Homo sapiens: one gene and its partner. The protein of the gene in region 2 purifies or fractionates together with the protein of the main gene of each other region. This does not show direct contact. Each region holds a gene or a part of one and is shown on either strand. Other genes may lie near its edges.

Region 1 (3,749 bases), on a different chromosome or scaffold from region 2:
GCGGGCTGAGGCGAGGGTCAGAGCTTCCAGTAGGCTGTGGTCCTCATCAAGCTGGCGGGCCGTGCAGAGTGGTGTGGGCACTTTGACGGTGTTGCCAAACTTGGAGTAGTCCACAGAGTAACGTCCGTCCTCCTCAGCTACAATGGGCACAAAGCGCTGGCCCCACAGGATCTCATCGGCCAGGTAGGAGGTGCGGGCCTGGGTGGTGATGCCCGTGGTTTCCACCACGCCTTCCAGGATGACGATGATCTCGAGGTCCTGGTGGTGGTGCAGGTCGCTGGGTGCCAGGTCGTAGAGTGGGCTGTTGGCATCAATGACATGGTAGATGATCAGCGGGGCCACCAGGAAGATGCTGTTGCCACCCACGCCGTTCTCCATGGGGATGTCCACCTGGTGGAGGGGCACCACCTCGCCCTCGGGGCTGGTGGTCTTGCGTACCACCTGCATGTGGATGGTGGCGCTGATGATCATGCTCTTGCGGAGGTCACCCACACGTAGCATGAAGCAGAGGCGGCCGTGGCGCAGGGCGATCACCGCATGCTTGCTGAAGATGAGGGTCTCAGCCCTGCGGTGGGCTTGGGCAGTCTTCATGAAGATGCAGCCAAGCATGATGGCGTTGATCATGAGCCCCACGATGTTCTGCACGATGAGGATCAGGATGGCCAGTGGGCACTCCTCAGTCACCATGCGCCCCCCAAAGCCAATAGTCACTTGGACCTCAATGGAGAAAAGGAAGGCAGACGAGAAGGAGTGGATGCTGGTGACACAGGGCTCAGCAGTGCCCTCGCTGGGGGCCAGGTCACCGTGGGCGAAGGCGATGAGCCACCAGGCCATGGCGAAGAGCAGCCAGCTGCACAGGAAGGACATGGTGAAGATGAGCAATGTGTGTGGCCACTTGAGGTCCACCAGCGTGGTGAACACGTCCTGCAGGAAGCGGCCCTGCTCCCGGATGTTCTTGTGGGCCACGTTGCAGTTGCCTTTCTTGGACACAAAGCGGGCCCTCCGCTGGCGGGCACGGTACCTGGGCTTGGCAGGGTCCTCTGCCAGGCGTGTCAGCACGTATTCCTCGGGGATGATGCCCTTGCGGGACAGCATGGCTCCGGTGACCCCCAGGGAGGGGCTTCCCCCATCGGAGGCACCCCTCGGACGTGGCCTAGGGCCTCACTGCAGAGTCCTCTCGGTGGGCACCTTCTCACCCTGGGGCTGCACTCAGCCTGTGCTGGCCTCACTTCTGAGATAACTCCCCACCAGACTCTTCCTTACCTCCACCTGGGTCCCACTTCACTTCTTAATACCAGCCTCAGGCCGGGCGCGGTGGCTCACGCCTGTAATCCCAGTACGTTGGGAGGCTGAGGAGGGCAGATCACTAGGTCAGGAGTTCGAGACCAGCCTGACCAACATGGTGAAACCCCATCTCTACTAAAAATACAAAAGTTAGCCGGGCATGGTGGTGCGCACCTGTAATCCCAGCTACTCAGGAAGCTGAGGCAGGAGAATCGCTTGAACCCGAGAGGCGGAGGTTGCAGTGAGCCAAGATCACGCCACTGCACTCCAGCCTGGGCGACAGAGCGAGACTCCGTCTCAAAAACAAAAAACAAAACAAAAAAAACAGCCTCACCCTTGAGCCCACCTGCCTGGCGCCTAGGGAGCCCCCAACCCTGCCGGCTCTCCACCTGGCCCTGCGTCCTCCCCCAGCTTCCCCCACCAGCTGACCACCCCTGGGCCTCCCGCTAAGAGCCCTTCTCCCCGCCCAGCCTGCCTTCCCAGCCCAGCTCAGAACTTAACACCTCCGGATCTCTCCCACTAACCGGACCTCACCCCCACCTCCGGGTCTCCCGCCTCACCTGTCTGGCCTTCGGGCTCCCAGGCTCCAGCTCAGGTCCTGGCCACCCCCGCCCCGTCTCTCCTCCAGGTGCGCCCCCTATGTCCTACTCCACCCCTCCCGGAGCGCCCCCGCCGCTTTCCGGATCCCCCTCCAGCTCTCGTCCTCTCTGTCTCCTTGGGATCCTGCGTTCTCTGGAGTCACCACCCCACCCGGCTCAACCGCGGCTCCCCGGACCTGCGCGCGACCCGGCGGGGCTGACTCCGAGTCGCGGCCTCCCGGTCCCTGCCGCCCGCCCGCGCCGCGGCTCCCGCTCCGCGCCGGGTCCCGGCCCCGCCCGCCGCCGCCGCTGCACCTGCTCCTGCTCCTCACGCCACGGCCGTCGCCTCCCCGCCCCCTCCCGCCGCCCGGGCGCTCGCGGCTGGCCGTCCTCCCGTCTGTCTGTCCGTCCGTGGGTCCGCGGAGACCGACCTGGGCTAGGCAGGGGTCTAGGACGGCGGGAGGGGGGCGCACGAGGAGAGGAACGGGGCCGGGGACCGCCAGGGGGAGCCCGACCTGCACCGGAGCGCAGGGGGCGGGGCCGGAGCAAGCCCCCGCCCCTCCCGCGCCCCTCCCCGCCCCCGCCCTCCACCTCCCCTCCCGGGACTCACAACCCGGCCTTTGGAGTTTTTCTGATCCGCGGAACCCAGAGGTTCCTCCTGCCCACGCTCTACGAAAGTGGGGGGCTGGGAGGGATCTGTGACCCGCCCTCCCAGTCTGGGGCCGCCGCCCTGTCGCCCTGGCTCCCCTCCCCCAATATCCCCATCCGTATTTGGGTCAGTAATCCGCCTCTCGGCCGCGCCAGGTTTGCAGGTTCCCCGGGAAAGGAGGCGCTGAGAGGCGGCGCCACCAATCCCAGGGCTGGCGGAAATTAGGCGGTCCGAGGACTTCTCAACCTGCAGCTGCTTCTCTTTGGGGGATGCTCTTAATCTTAGTCTTGAATCCTTTGACAATCTGATGGAAGCTCAGACTCCCTCTCATTAAAAAAAAAAAAAAAAAAAAAAAAAAAAAAGGCCTCGGCAGGAAAGGAGCACAGTTTAACACCTGCTACTGCTGTGGGGCAGCCTGGGCGGCTCCATCTTCTCAGCCATTCCGGCCCTACTTTAAAGAAGGTTTGAGCCGAGGCCACTTGCTTTACACTTTCTCACACCTGTCACCTGACTTCTTCCACGTTAGGTCATGGGTGGTATTTAGGCCTGAACAGTGTGTTAGGGCTGCCTCGGGCACTGGGGGACCCAGGCTCTTGGTCCCGGCATGGTGGTGTTTCTGTTCAGGCATCAGCCTGAGGCTGCCCTGTGGCATGGACCCGGGTTCTCAGCTGGGAGGGAAAGCCTGCTAGATCTCTGTTGTTGGAACAGTAACGGCTTTACCGCTGTCTGTGGCTCAGATCCTTATGGAAGAACCCCTGACCATCTGCGGCCATTTTGTTGGAGTGGGGGCTTGAGACAGGGTCTGGAAAAGGCAGTGTGGCTGTGGGCCACAGTGGGGGCAAGATATGCATTTTATATTGGATTTTCCTTTCTCTCCCTACCCACCTGCAGGCAGAGCGAACACCGCTACAAAGGATGGGTGTGATCATGGGCTATATTAACAAAGATGCAGTGTCTAGGAAGGGGAGGGTAAAATGAGATGAGCAGAGTGGGAAGCTCAAGGAGACAGGGTTACATGGGGAAATCTCTGAGGCAACTACAACTGTCCAGCCATCAGAAAAGGAAAGTCCCCCAGGGATTTGGGCACTATTGCAGAAACACCTGGCCTTGAAGGAGGATGAACTAGTAGTTTTTTGTGGCCCAAAGGGTAGAACCAGGACACTAAGTGGAACAGAGGCAGGCTTTGGTTTCACATATGCAAGAGTCAGTTCTAATAACAATAACCAGAGATGAGCCAC
Region 2 (3,749 bases):
TCTGTAAATACATTCATGATACAGAATTAAGGAAGATCAAAAAATAACAGAACTTGGAACAGTGTGACCTTGTTTCAATTCATGCCAAAATAGCTGCATAGGTTGCAAGTGTTTTAAAAGGTCCTACAGGACAAGATACTTACACCCTGCTCGTAGCAATGCTAATCCCTGGTGTGGGCAGCAAAATTGGTAGGGAAGGTAATGTGAGGAGGAACTTCAACTTGTTCTTTCTCTATCTCTGTATTTTTTTTTTTTGCACAATGCATTATTTTCAAATTTGGTAATTTATGGAAATAAAATAACTGAGGAAAAAATCATGATCTTAAATTAGTCTTAAAAGATGCAAATCTTCAGAGCAAAGTAAAAAGCTATTAGAATGACTCACCTTGCTATAATTAGATTTTTCTCCATTAGAGTTCATACAGTTTTATTTGATTTTATTAGCAATCTCTTTCAGAAGACCCTTGAGATCATTAAGCTTGGAAAGAGAAAAAAATAGAACTCATCTTAAGATAAATTTTCCAACTTTCATTTTTAAATTATCGCTCTGTGCCTTTTCTAAGAAACAGACATGTCTACTAAATAGCAAGCATGGCACATCTAAAATAAGGCAGAATGAGAGTGGCATGTGATATTTCAGATCCTGATCATTGCTTACTTTCTGAAATCATATCACTAGCAATTAGTAACCAATTAGTAAACCAATTAATATTAACTTTACTCAGATCCAAATCATTAGTGCTCCCAAACAGAAATAATAGATTGCAATAATACAAACAAGTAATATGTAAAAAGAATAATGTTCTATGTAACTAACATTAATAAAAGTATAAGATACTAATTAAGTTTTGCTTTGGTAAAAGTATAATACTAATAAAAATAATGTGATACTAAGAAATCAAATTTTTGCAAATAAAAGATTTCCCCACACACACAAAAACAGCAGACAATTTAAGTAAGAGGCATAATGAAATTAATCTTGATCCATGCATGTTTCACAAATTTATTACAAAAGATACATGAAGTCATTTTAAATTACATGTCATATTACTACATTTGCTAAAAGCAATTTCTGTACAGTTTGGTTTCTAATTTGCTTTATCACTCACTCAAGAAAAAAATCTGTATTTAAGTTGAGCTTAATTCCAGTAGTAACCTTTTACTTTAACTGTTTAAAAATAAAAGAAAAAAATGAAACTATAAGTGCTAACGGCTTCCTAAAATAAATAAGGCATAGTAAGATCCATACTTACAGACTTAAGATGAATTGTAAATAACTTTGTTTTCTGGTATAAGGAGATGGGGAAATTTTGTATTCCCTATAGGAGCTTTTGAAAGAGCCTTGTATTTGTTAATAGTAAAATGACTTTAGTAAGCTGTTTAAAGTAGAGCAAAAACTCCAAGAGCAAAATACATTTTTAAAAAAGAGAGTTGAAAAACAATGGGAAAAAAAATCATTGAAAGTAAGAGTTGGTTTTTTGAAAAGATAAACAAAATCAACAAACCTTTTAAGAAAAGGAAGAAGATACAAATAAATACAGTCAGAAATGAGAAAGACAACCTTACAACAGAGGGCATAGAAATGAAAGGGATCAGAAGGGGCTAGTATGAACAATTATATGCAAACAAGGTGGACAACCTAGAAGAAATGGAAATATCCCAGAAATGTACAACTTACAAAGACCTGAATCAAGAAGAAATACAAAGCCTGAACAGACAAACAACAAATGAAGAAAATGAAAATCAGCAATCAAAAAGCTTTCAACAAAGAAAAGCCCAGGATGGCTTACTGGGAAATCAGATGGCTTACTGGTAAATTCTAGCAGACAGTCAAAGAAGAACAAATGCCAAACCTTAGACTCTTCCAAAAAATAGAAAAGGGAACAAGTACAAATTCATTGTGTGAGGCCAGCATTGTTCTTTTACCAAAGCCGGAAAAAGATAACACAAGAAAAGAAAACTATAGGCCAATGTTCCTGAGGAACATAGATACAGAAATCTCAATAAAATACTAGCAAACTGAATTTCAGAGCATATTAAAAGGATCCGTGAAGACACCACCACCCAGGGGTATTTAGCCCTGGGATGCAAGGGTGGTTCAAAATATGAAGATTCATCAGTGTGATACACTACATTAACAGAATGAAAGACAAAAACCACATGATCATCTCAATAGATACAGAAAAAGTAGTTGACAAAATTCAAGGCCTTTTCATGATAAAAGAAAAAAAAAGACTCTCAACAAAATCGATATAGAAGGAACTTACTACAACACAATAAAGGCCATATATGAAAAAACCCACAACTAAAATCATATTTAATGGGGTAAAATTGAAAGCTTTTTCTCTAAGATCAAGAATAAGGCAAGGATGCCCATTCTCACCACTGCTATTTAACATAGCATGACAAGTTCTAGCCAGAGAAATCAGACAAGAAAAAAAGAAAAGAAAAGGCATCTAAATAACAAAGAAGAAAGTAAAATTATCTCTATTTGCATATAACATAATCTTATATGAAGAAAATCCTAAAGACTACACACACTCACACACACACACACACACACTCTCACACACACAAAAAAAAACTGTTAGGACTGCTGGGCGTGGTGGCTCATGCCTGTAATCCTAGCACTTTGGGAGTCCAAGGCAGGCAGATCACAAGGTCAGGAGATGGAGACCATCCTGCTCAACATGGTGAAACCCCATCTCTACTAAAAATACAAAAATTAGCCGGGCATGGTGGTGCACGCCTGTAATCCCAGCTACTCAGGAGGCTGAAGCAGGAGAATCGCTTGAACCCAGGAGGCAGAGGTTGCAGTGGGCTGAGATTGCACCACTGCACTCCAGCCTGGGTGACAGAGACTCTGTCTCAAAAAAAAAAAAAAACTGTTAGAACTCATAAATAAATTCAGTATATTTGCAGGATACAAAGTCAACACATAAAAATTAATGGCATTTCTATACACCAACAAAGAGCTATCTAGAAGGGAAATTATGAAAACAATCCATTAATATAAGTAACAAAAAGAATAAAATTCTTACAAATTTAACAAAGAAGTAAAAGACTGGTACACTGGAAATTATAAAACATTGATAAAGGAAATCTTTTTTTTTTTTTTTTTTTTTGAGACAGTCTCGCTCTGTCTCCCAGGCTGGAGTGCAGTGGCGCGATCTCGGTTCACTGCAAGCTCTGCCTCCCAGGTTCACGCCATTCTCCTGCCTTAGCCTCCAGAGTAGCTGGGACTACAGGTGCCTGCCACCACACCCGGCTAATTTTTCTGTTTTTAGTAGAGACGGGGTTTCCCTGTGTTAGCCAGGATGGTCTCGATCTCCTGACCTTGTGATCCACCTGCCTCGGCCTCCCAAAGTGCTGGGATTACAGGCATGAACCACTGCGCCCGGCCAGGAAATTTTAAAAGACACAAATAAATGGAAAAACATCCCATGTTCATGGATTGAAAAAATGAATATTGCCAAAATATCCATTCTACTCAAAGAAGTCTACAGATTCAATGCAATCCCTATCAAAATTCCATGAGCTTTTTTTTTAAAGAAATAGAGAAAACAATCCTAAAATTATATAAAACCACAGAAGATTCTGAATAGCCAAAGCAATCTTGAGCAAAAAGAACTAAGCTGGAAGCATCACACTTCCTGACTTCAAATTATATTACAAAGCTAAAGTAATCAAAACAGTACGGTACTGACATAAAAACAGACTATAGACCAATGGAATAGAATAAAGGGCCC

The links.
Region 1: the proteins of TRPM8 (region 2) and KCNJ11 purify together in Homo sapiens (affinity purification with mass spectrometry; 2 studies listed by BioGRID and IntAct, with this or other methods). This does not show direct contact.

What each region holds. Positions count from the first base shown.
Region 1 is NC_000011.10:17,386,997-17,390,745, forward strand, and holds the start of KCNJ11 (ATP-sensitive inward rectifier potassium channel 11), read right to left. Parts: upstream 1,664-3,749; 5' UTR 1,096-1,663; coding exon 1-1,095. UniProt on the Homo sapiens protein: Inward rectifier potassium channel that forms the pore of ATP-sensitive potassium channels (KATP), regulating potassium permeability as a function of cytoplasmic ATP and ADP concentrations in many different cells.
Region 2 is NC_000002.12:234,011,291-234,015,039, reverse strand, and holds part of TRPM8 (transient receptor potential cation channel subfamily M member 8), read right to left. Parts: intron 479-3,749; coding exon 428-478; 3' UTR 386-427; intron 1-385.